2 linked regions of the Homo sapiens genome follow. The protein of the gene in region 1 interacts with the protein of each later gene in a pairwise test. Each region holds a gene or a part of one and is shown on either strand. Other genes may lie near its edges.

Region 1 (7,293 bases):
GTTACAGTAACAAATGTAGCATGGCAAAGCTGCAAGAACAGAAAAACAGACCAAAGAATGGAATAGGGAGCTCAGAGACAGATATGTGAATAAGTGAAAACCCACATCTGGTAAAGGAAGCCCCACAAAACCCTGGGAAATGGATGGATAGTACAGCTACAAAAGAAAATGTGGACAAAATTGGCTTCATATAAACTAACCAAAAGTGTCCCCAAGAAGTCAAAAGGCAACAAAAGACAGAAAAAAAGATTTATTTTAACACATAGTCTCATAAGTAAATATGGGAAAATAACCCAAAGGAAAACAGCAATGTAAGATGATCTCTTCCACAAAAAGAAAAAAAATGGCAAGAGATGTTCTATCCCACTCTTATTTAAGGAAACGTTCACTAAAAGAAGAAATATGCAGACTGACAAAAATTTAGTGTGGTGAGTCCTCAAAGATCTAGGGGCAGAAATACCATTTGACCCAGAAATCCCATTACTGGGTATAGATCCAAATGAATATAAATCATTCTGTTATAAAGATATATGCATGCATATGTTCATTGCAGCACTATTCAGAATAGTGAAGACAAGGAATCAACCCAAATGCCCATCAGTGATAATCCAGACAAAGAAAATGTGGTTCATATACACCATGGAATACTATGCAGCCATAAAAATGAACAAGATCATGTCCTTTGCAGGAACATGGATGGAGCTGGAAGCCGTTATTCTCAGCAAACTAATGCAGGAACAGAAAACCAAACACCACATGTCCTCACTTACAAGTGGGAGCCGAACAAGGGAAACTCATGGACACATGGTGGGGAACAACACACTCTGGGGCCTGTCACAGGGAGGGGTTGGGGAGGTGAGAGCATCGGGAAGAATAGCTAATGGATGCTGGGCTTAATACCAAGGCGATGGGTTGATAGGTGCAGCAAACCACTATGGCACACGTTTACCTATGTAACCAACCTGCATAGCCTGAAACTTAAAATAAAAGTTGAAAAAAATAATAATAATAATGTAATACTCTTGGCGAAGTTATGGGAAAGCTGTTGCCATCAAACTCAGCTAATAGGAATAGATTTTTTATTATTATTAAAATTGTGGAGTAAAATGGCCTTTTATTCTGCAATTGCACTTTTGGGAATTTGTCCTGCAGAGATATTCACACAAATAAGCAATGGTCACTGTACACACATGCTGACTGCAACAGGTTTAATTTAGCAAAAGTCTGAAACAAGCTAAATATACATTGATGGAAAGAGGTTTAGATAAACATCCACACAACAGAATGCTAGTACCATAGAATACAATGCAACTACAAAAAAGGAGGAAACAGGTCACTAGCTGTGTCACACAATGCAGGCTGGAAGGTAAATCAGTACAGAGATTCTGGAAGGCAAATTGGCCATATCTACAATAACTGGAAAGATACACAAGTGCTTTCAACAAAGGTGTGAAACAAATAAAATATGGAATGTTATGCCATGCTAAAAAAAAAAAAAACAGCTGTAAGACACACTGTCGAGTGGCAAAAATAAGCCACAAAATGCATACATGTAAATAGCAAAGGGCAAAATACATAGTATATATATATATGAAATACATATTTCTATGTATATGGAAATATACACATTTCATTGACTCCTAATTATTAAATTAAATAAACATATTAATAACATTATAATTTAATAATTAGGAATATATATAGTATATATGGAAATATATATTTCTATGTATATGAAATATATACATTTCATTGACTCCTAATTATTAAATTAAATAAATATGTTAATAAATTTAATATATATTAAAATATATAAATATGTATATATTTCATTGACTCCTATTTATATAAATAAAATACATAGTATATATATGGAAATAGATGATATAGATAGATCGATGGATGGATAGATAGATAGATAGATAGACAAGAAGGATGAATAGATAGGATAAAGGATGGATGGACGGATGGATGGATGGATGGATGGATGGATGGATGGATGGATGAACGGATGGACAGATGTATAGATAGATAGATAGATAGATAGATAGATAGATAGATAGATAGATAGATAGACAGATAGATAAGCAGACAGTTAGATGACAAATTGATGTCTCAAGAGACCCCTTTAGGGAAAGCGAGGATATTAGGTGGGGTGGTGGGAATGTCAAGGTTAAACCCTGTCTTATCTGTAGTGTCGCATTGAGTCCAAGAAGAATCTGTTCTCATCATTGCTTTTGGAAGTCAACACTCATTTTCCATGTATAAATGCAAAATAGAATGGTACTCAGTCTTTAAAATGAAAAGAATCCTGTCGTTGGTGACAATATGGATGATTCTGGAGGACATTATGCTAAGTGAAATAAGCCAGGCACAAGAAGACAAATAGCAAATGATCTCAATTACCTGTGAGAGCTAAAATAGGTTACATAGAAATCACAGAGACAGAAGAAAATGGTGGTTGCCAGAGGAGGGAGGAAGAAAGAACAGGAAGATGTTGGTCAAAGGGTACAAGTTTCCATTAGACGGGAGGAAAAAGTTTTGAGATCTATTATATGCATGGTGACTACAGTTAATAATAATAGATTATGTTTTCCAAAACGGCTAAAAGAGAAAATTTCAAATGTTCTCACTGCTAAAATAATAAGTATATGAGGTAATGGATATGACCATCAGGTGGATTTAATCATTCTGCATTGTGTACATCATAACATCACAGTGTACCCCATAAATATATATAATCAAAATTTGTCAATTAAAAATAAAGACAAATTAAAAAACAAACTCATTTTCTAAAACTCATATTTTGAGAAAAACAGAAGATGGTAAAGATACATTGTTAGTGGGCAGACCTGTGTCTATTTTATGTACTCCTACTCACACAGAAAAAGAGAGCATGTGTTCATATACAGTGGGCATCAGGATAGCCATTTTCTAGGACACACAGAAAACCATTGATGATGGAAACTGCCAGAGTGAGGAGTGTGAGGCTTAAGAAGGAAGCTCATTTTTTATCAAAATTTTTGGACACTTTTTTAAACAATGTGTAATTTTGCTTGAAATCTTGGTTTTAAAAGCATAAAAATGTTTCTCCACCTTACAGGACCCTGTGCTGAGCAAAGGCTTGGATGTAAGGGCACTACCTTCAAAAGGCCTGTCCAGCTCAATGTCTCCTCTCCATCCCCAGCTCCTGGCCTGGCTCAGACCTCAGAATGTCCTTCCCTGGGACTTCCTTCTACAACTGGTCCTCTCCAGTATGCCCTCTACACTAGCCCTAAAAAGATTCTCCTGCTACCTGTCTCTTCCCATTGCCCTTGAGTTAAAATTGAAGTTCTTGACTTTTTTTTCCATGTATTCCACACCCAGGCTCTGCTGCCATCTCCAGGTTCATCATCTCATCATGACTCAGTTTCTCCCTCTCTATTCATCTCTCTGTTTCTGTCTTCCCTCTCTCTTTCTTTCTCTCTTGCTTTCCTTCTCTCTCCATTCTCTTTTTATGACCTTCTCCCTCCCCCTGCACACAAGCCACTTCTCTCTTTCCCTCTTTTCTTTCTCTTCTCTCTCTCTGTTTCTCTCACTCTTGGTCTCTCTCTCTCTCTCTTTCTGTCTCTCTCTCTCTCTCTCTCTCTCTCTCTCTCTCTCTCTCTCTCTCTCTCCCTCTCTCTCTCACTCCCTCTCTCCTCCCTCGACCTTTGCCTAGGCTCTCTTCTTGACCTAGAGCCCTACTGCATCCAAATATCTACTGATCATTATTAAGGATCTCAACTGAGACACCTCACTTTTATTTTCATCTATTCATGTCTTTTAGAGAAAAATTCTCACTATGTTGTCCAGGCTCATCTTGAAGTACTGGCCTCAAGTGATCCTCCCACCTCAGCCTCCTGAGTGGCTGGGATTACAGGTGCCAGCCACTGTGGCCGGGTGAGACACTTTCTGTACCTCCAGTCATGCTTCTCTTGTTCTCAGCCTCATCCCTGCCCATGTGGGCTGGGAGTTTCCTGTCCTGGGACTGTTCCCCCACCAGGCTGGGAGCACCTGGAAAACAGATCGCAGGGCTGGATTCTTCCAAGCTCTCCAGAGCACCGAAAGGTGCTAGATACAAAACTGGGGATAGGAATACAGTGTAGGAGCATTTGCTGAATGAAGACTGGATGGATGAACAATGCAGGTGTTCTGGATAGGAATGAATGACTTTTACCCTCAGGTCTCTCTTATAAATCCCTGGACTGTACAACAGGATTGAAATTAGGGTAAGGAAGAGCAAACATTCAGAAAGTGAAGATGTTTGAAAAAACATGATAATTCAGTGAAAAGAGGAGGTGGAGGAGAAATTCATTTGCTGAACACATGCTAAGTGGCATCATCTGCCTTCACATGCTGTCACAAATTCTCCCAGCAGCCCAGGTCCCAAAAGCCTGCAAACCATCCCCTGCTGGCCTGGCTGTGTATTAAGCCCTGCCTCTGAGATTTGCACCGATTCCCACTAAGCGATAATGGAAGAATTGACCAAAAAAACTCCCTCCCTCTGCCCACCTGAGGAGCAGAACCAATGACAAAAGATCAGGAACAGGCCAGCACCTGCACTCACCATTCAATCTCTATAGGTTCACGGTCCTTCAGAAGCTCTTGCACTTCTTGCCGGCACTGTTCCTGGTATTCTGGGTGCTTTGCAAGGTGGTATAGGACCCAGGAGAGACCACTGGCTGTAGTGTCATGGCCTGAGGGGCAGCCAAGCAAAACTGGGTTTCTGGGCTGCTTCAGCACCAGAGGGAGGAGAGCACCCAAACTCTGAGGCCCTCAGGAGAATGTAGGGAGGAGGAGGATGGGCAGAATTAAGTGATCCAGGGTCCACCCACTACGTTCCTGGGATGGAGAGGCCCCTGTCCCCACCGTAGTCCCACACTGAGACCCTCACCCTCAAACATGAAGGTGTCAGCTTCTGCTCTTATGTCCTCATCAGACAATTCCTTCCCATCTTCATCCTGGAGAGAAGGCAAGACAATATCCCTGCCCCAAATCACACCAGCTCTGAAGGCTCTTGAGTCAAACCTAAGATAATTTCTGAAGATCCATCCTCCTTCCAGAAACCCAAGCCCATCATGCACTCCTAGATGTCTCTTGGTCACCACCATCAGAGCCCACCACCCACAGGCTTCCCGCTGGCTTCTTCACCTCCTATTTGGCCCTGCTGGGAAGAGTCAATGACCTATGGATATTTTCTTGTTTCGAATAATGAGGACTTTTGGAGTAAAGCATTAACTGGCAACCTGGGTTACAGCATATTTCAATGGCAATTTCACTTGGAGGTTAGAAATTAAGTATTGGCTGGGCGTAATGGCTCACGCCTATAATCCCAACACTTTGGAAGGCCGAGGCAGGTGGGTCACCTGAGGTCGGGAGTTCGCAACCAGCCTGACCAACATGGAGAAACCCCGTCCCTACTAAAAAAAAAATTAGCCTGGCATGGTGTTGCATGCCTGTAATCCCAGCTCTTCAGGAGGCTGAGGCAGGAGAATCACTTGAACCCGGGAGGCAGAGGTTGCAGTGAGCCAAGATCACACCATTGCACTCCAGCCTAGGCAACAAGAGTGAAACTCTGTCTCAAAAAAAATGAAAGAAAGAAAGAACTGAAGTATTACTCTGAATGTATTTGCTCACATTCTAGAGTGGTAAACTCAGAGAATACTTCTTATCTTTCCAGAAGGCATCTGGGTTATAAACCTATAAACCTACAGGCATGTCGATCTCACTGGAAAGGAGTAGTTTTTATTCCAGAACAAAGCAAACATCCTCTCTCTCTCTCTCTCTCTCTCTCTCTCTCTCTCTCTCTCTTTCTCATTCCCACTCTCGCCCTGGAAGGAAGAAGGGGCAGATGTGCTAGCTAGCTATCCTATATAAGCCCCAAGATGTATACTGTGGGGCCCCTCTCTGCAGTGCATTCTGGTGTATTTACAGGTAAAAACATTGCATTACCCTAGAAGGAATATGGGAATAGAGAGCCAGCTCTACAATCCTACTCTGGTTGCTGCTATTGCTGTGAATGATGAATAGGCTGCTGTGATCCAGGGATTTGGTGCATCTGTCATCATAGATATAGACATAGATAGATATGCATAAAAATATGTCAGCCTAACTTGCTAACATGTAAGTAGAGTAAAATCTCAGGCTCCTCACTATTTCAAACTTAGCAGTCCCCTGCCAGCTGAATTCCACAGAGTCATCTCTCAAACCTATCTCTGACCTGTCTTTTTCAAGCATGTTCCATGGCTCCCAGTGCCCTTTGGATCAAGTCCAAGTTCTTTCATTTGACAGAGGCATAAATCTCCACTCTATTACTTGAATTCACATCCCAGAGAAGCCTACCTTGCTCAGCAGAAGCACATCAATGAAGTCTAAAGTCTTGGACTTTGCCTTGTTCTTGAGGAAATCATCAATACCCTGAGTGGGGAGGGTGCAGCGCCGCTCCTGGATGACGGCATCTGTGAAGTCGTGCACCAGGTGGCAGGCCCTGCGGAAGCGCTGCCCATCAGGAGTGAGATAATACAGGAAGTCCGTGTGCAAGAGAATCTGCTGGTTTCTCTTTTCTACAAAGGCACTGAGCTCCAAGATGGCGGCAATATATTCACTGGGCTTCCTGCATGAAGGAGGTAACAACTTAACATATGCAAAGTCCCAGGAGCACCTCTCACCAGCAGCTAGAAGCTACTGCCCATCAGGAAATTGAGTATCCAGAAACAGCCAGGAGACTTGACTCTCCAAACTCTCTTCTCTGAGGCATTCCATCTCTGAGAGCTGCCTCCATGCACCAAGGTACCCAGAGCATAGCTTGGACACCATGCTTCTCTCCCGTCTCTCCCACCCAGTATCCAGCCTGCACTCTTTTCCTTCCAAAAACTGTTCACAAAACTCAGACCTCACTGTCTTCCAGCTCTTTCTGACCCAGCCCCCACCATAACAGACTTGCATTCAATGTCTGCTCCATGTAGCGTCTACATGACAGGCAGACCTCCACAGAGCTCAGCTGTGACCACATCTGTCATCGGCCCAACCCTCTTCAAAAGATTCCTGGGAACCTCCTGATAAAGTTCATGCCACTTTTCCTGATTTTCAATGTCCTGAAATCTATCCCCTGTCTACTTCCACAACCTCATGTCTACTGTCTCTTTCCCCCTCCCCATCCTTCAAAGCCCAGCTATGACACACAGAAAGTGCCTTCAGAAAGGCACTTCTGGTTACCCCGGTCAGCCATCCTTTTCCAGCCTACTCCCTTGGGTTCCAGGCCCAAGTTCTCAG
Region 2 (4,861 bases), on another chromosome or scaffold:
AGGAGGATTGCTTGAGGACCAGCCCAGGCAACATGGTGAGACACCTCCATTTCTCCAAAAAAAAAAAACAAAAAAAAAAAAACCTAGCCAGGCATAGTGGTGCATGCTTGTAGTCCTAGCTACTCGGGAGGCTGAGGCAAGAGGATGGCTTGAACTCAGGAGTTTGAGGCTGCAGTGAGCTATGAACACACCACTGCACTCTAGCCTGAGTGAGACAGCAAGAGACCCTGTCTCTTAAAAAACAAACAAACAAACAAAAAACTTCCAGGGAAAAAAGCAAGGCTCAGAAATGTCCTACCCTGCATGCTCTTGTCCAAGCATAAAGGCGGACACTGTGGGTGCAGAAGGTGGATATTATGTATCTTGTCAGTATACAAACACTATTAAACAATAATCAGGGACACAGGAAAAAGTTTGTGAGTTCCTTTCCCTTGTTCAGTGGTTAATGCATACTAAGTTGGTTTAATTTAAAAAAAAAAAAGAGGTTTAACAGTATAAGGGAAACCACCAGAAGTACAAAAGCCACAGTATCACCATCAAAACCAGAAAGCCTGAGGATGAAGAAGGAAAGATGTGTATATCTGATACAGGTTTCATAATTGATAGTCAAAAGATATCATCCAAATTTATTAGATCACTAGATATTAAAACAAACAAGACAAAAAGGAAGACAAATTCATTAAAAACAGGACATTTCTCCCAGCTATTTGGGAGGCTGTGGTGGGAAGATCAATTGAGCCGGTAGGTAGAGACTTCAGTGAGCCGTGATCCTACTGCACTCTAGTGAGGGCAACAGAGTGAGACCCTGTCTCAAAAACAAAAACAAATGACATTTCTCTTAAAAAATTTTTGTTTCGTTTTTTTGAGACAGAGTCTCATCCCGTCATCCAGGCTGGAGTGCAGTGGCCTGATCTTGGCTCACTGCAACCTCCGCCTCCCGGGTTCAAGCCATTCTCCTGCCTCAGCCACCTGAGTAGCTGGGATTACAGGCCCGCACCACCACACTCGGCTAATTTTTAGTAGAGACAGGGCTTCACCATGTTGGCCAGGCTGGTCTCAAACTCCTGACCTCAACTGATCCACCCACCTCGGCCTCCCAAAGTACTGGGATTACAGGCGTGAGCCACTGTACCCAGCCCAACATTTCTTTTGCTCATGAATCTGCAGACTGGGCAGACTGTTTCTCAGCTCAGCTTATGTTGGCTCCCCTCAGTGTCAACTAGGATTGCTTGAAGGCTGGGGCTGGAAATGTTTAAATCTTATCCACATGTCTGTGCCTGGGCTGGGAAGACTCATGCAGCTGGGGTTGGAGCAGGTGGGCCTCCTGGGTATCCCTCTCTCTACGTGAAACACTGTACGCAGCCTCTCCAGTATGGTGGCTTCAGGGTAGCCAATTAAGATATGGTTTTACAATCTATTAAACTGGTAAATGTGATGCCCAAGGCTGGCAAGGATAGATCTATTGTTGGCAAGGGTAAGCTGACTAAACCACTTGGGAGGGCAATTTGGCAATACACACCAAAATGTTAAATTCCGTTTGCTCTAATAATTCTACTGCTAGGAATTTACCTTTCAGATATAAACAAAAGTGTACCGAAATATTTTGTATGAAAATGTCCACTGCAGCACTGAATATACCAGCAAAAAATCTGAACACTCAAGTGTCCATCAGCAGGGACTATGCAGTGAAACAGTGGTTCAAACCTCACCATCACCCTGCTGATGTAGGACACCTTCAGCTATGGCCTGCACTACTGAAGCACCTCCCAGCTCACGGCTCACACCTGCTGGGGTCCTCTTCTGATCACTTCTCCTGTGCAACCAGTGCAACCTGGACTGCCTTTCACACCCACCCCATCACAATTAAGATCCACCAGGGCGTCCCAAACTCCTACCAAACTCCATGTGCTACGCTCCTCCAACCTGGGCCTGCACTGGGCCCCAGCCTCCCCGCTGGCCTTCCTGCTGCCTCTCCCTCTGCCACTTCTAGCCACAGGGTCTTAGCTCAGACTGTTTCCTCTGCCTGCCTTACTCTATTTCTCCTCTCCTCCTCTTGCCCTCAGAGAAGGCCTCTGGTTTTCTTAACCTGGTCAGGGAAGATTCTACCTCCCCCTACCCTGCCCCTTTCATACTTCTAACAGCTGCCATTTTACTTTGTACATTACTGACATTTGTCTTCCCCCACCGAATCATTGAGTTTTACGATAGCAGAGGCTGTATCTACACCGTCCTGGCACCTTGTAGTACCTAGTACATAACAGACACACAGAAACTACTGGGTGAAGTGGGGGCACACTGCACAGGAAACAATGAGACAGATCTGCACATTCTGACATGGGAAGGCTCCTAAGTGGAAACAGAAGGTACAGGGCGGAGTGAAAGCTTTGCTACCTTTTGCTTAATTAAAGCAATTATCTCATCAAAACAGCTGCTTTATACTGGGCCATTATGGCTATGCAGGACAGTAACCCCATCAAACTGCCCTGAGTACAACAGAAAAAGCCCACAGACAGGGCTTGGTTCAGCCACGGCATGATTCAGGGACTCGTTTATGCCACCAGGGTGTGGCGCTCTCTCCCCACTGTCAGACAGTTCTCTTCTCCAAGGGCGGGGCCTACAACAGCTCCCGCTCCAGGTTCAAGATGCAGGAGGAACAAGAAAAGCCTCTTTCAGGGCCTAGTACCCTAGTACGGTAGATCACACAGGCCTCACCCTGGAGAGGGCATGGCCTGGAGGGTGGGGGGACTGCAGGGCAAATGTCCCATCCAAAGCAGAGAACTGAGAATGCAGAGGGTGTGGTTCTTTCGAGGGAAATGTGAGCAGCTACCAAATTAAGGGGAAACAGATGCTGTGAGGCCAAAACAAACATACATCACCATAAGTACATTTACATAAGTAAATGTACTTTTTTTTGGTGGATGGGCAGGGAGGGGGATGTGGGGGCACAAATTGTTAACAGCAGCTTCCACTGGGACAAGCTACCACCGGCGGCAAGAGAGGGATACACTTTTCACTTTGTACCATTCTTTAACACTGACATTTTCTAACCATGTAATGTGCTACTTTTAATTTATTAAAATCACAATTGAGGGTTTTTCCCAAAGAATTTTAGTTCTTAGAAATGACATCTGTATATAAATGTTCTAACTCTTATTCACAGTAGGCTCTAACATGAACGGCAAAATCAGACATCAACAGTAGCACATCATGTTACTCTATACGAAAGCACAGATTTAGGCACTTTATCAAAGAAAAATGTTTAGAAACAAATGAGGTTATTGAGTCGTCTGTCACACTCTGCAAAGGACTCTGATTCCCTACTTAAATCCTTTAAAACTGTCACATTAAATGGAACATATAACCCCTCGACACCAGCAGTACTCTTTCCTAAATAAGGAAACAAAACAGAACCCCTAACTTTACAGACCACATAAAACCTGACAGACACCAAGAGTTCTCTTACTGATGAGTAAGATTCAAGTCAAAGAAATTCAAAACTACTTAGGATTTCAAGTGACATATTTTCTATTCTCCGCATTTCCTGCATAGATTTTGGATTTACACACCCTGGCTTCCTGGCTACAGACATCTGAGTTCACAAAGCATATTTTACCTTTAACATAATGAAAATGATGTATATGGCATGAAGAGTTTACTCAATTAAGTCAAGAGTTTTAAAGTCTTCTCTGATCAGAATTTGCTATCTGATCAGAGCAGGCCACCCAATCACAGCAGGTGCTTGGAGGGGAGTGGAATCTCAGTAGAGTTGATGACTCACCAAGTGTAAATGGGAAAAAGCAACACAGTCACATTTCCATGTAAGGAGATTTTATAGTAAACATGAATTTGTCAGTGTCCAGTATTAATTAGAAAACATCTGTCTTCTTACTTGAAGCCTATTAAGCAGTAATTCTTTGACCACAAACTGGTCATGTGGCAGACCCTTTCTAGAAGACACTAGAATGTCATCCGGTGTGCAGTTGCCTGAGACCACTCCCACCCCAGGAGCTGGGCAAAGAGCTCTCCACGTCCACCTGTCCCCCCACAGCGCGTCACTGCTGCCCCATCACAGGTCTTCTCTTTTATTCCCAGCTCGATTTTCTTCCTTGGAAGACCGAGATTTCAGATCTCCTTCCTTCTTTTTTTTGCCCTTGTCTTGCTTTGTTTTATTTTTCTCTTTGCTTCCTCCTCCTTTGCCGGGGTACACCTGGCCCTCCAGAGTTACATCAGCACACCTGTCTTGACCGACCAAAAAGTCCTTGATCTCCCAGGCGTAGCTCCCATCGCGAAGCATGAAGATAGCACGGTCTGATCCCACAATGAACCTTGGGCAGAGAGATGCAATCAGTCAGCCAGCACGTACTAGTAAGGTGCTAAGGGGTCAGAGCAATTCTCTGGCACTTATCAGTTTATTTCAAATTCTACATGAATATGGAATGAAAAATTGGATTTTCCAAAGCCTAGCAGCTACTGATATCTCATGTATTAAAATACTAGCTTGCTGAACTATTAAACATCCAGCTCAGATCAAAATAGAAACAGACACTGGATGTTCCTTTGTTGTATAAATGGATGCCCGTGTTAAAAGTGAACATTTGGAAAACCTCCCTAGGACACTGCAGAGGTGGCTCAGGGGCTGCTGCTGGGGAGGTAAAGAGGCAGCTTCGATCTGATCTGTATCTGTTTTATATTCTAGAGTGTCCAGTTACACTTTTATGGGACAAAAGACTTCTGCTGATAAAGGTGGAAAACCAATGGCTTAGAGTGGGTCATGATAAGAGGCTATGAAGGACTCAAGAGGACACTTGGTTGTTGGACAAAAATCCTAGCCCTTGAGCTTAGCAGCAAGCTGCCCAGCTCG

Evidence for each region.
Region 2: the proteins of CYP4F11 (region 1) and MESD interact in binary tests that used the Homo sapiens proteins (3 or more experiments, as listed by UniProt).

Annotation. Positions count from the first base shown.
Region 1 is NC_000019.10:15,917,449-15,924,741, forward strand, and holds part of CYP4F11 (cytochrome P450 4F11), read right to left. Parts: intron 6,635-7,293; coding exon 6,364-6,634; intron 4,983-6,363; coding exon 4,916-4,982; intron 4,719-4,915; coding exon 4,589-4,718; intron 1-4,588. UniProt on the Homo sapiens protein: A cytochrome P450 monooxygenase involved in the metabolism of various endogenous substrates, including fatty acids and their oxygenated derivatives (oxylipins).
Region 2 is NC_000015.10:80,975,153-80,980,013, forward strand, and holds the end of MESD (LRP chaperone MESD precursor), read right to left. Parts: intron 4,326-4,861; coding exon 4,067-4,325; 3' UTR 600-4,066; downstream 1-599. UniProt on the Homo sapiens protein: Chaperone specifically assisting the folding of beta-propeller/EGF modules within the family of low-density lipoprotein receptors (LDLRs).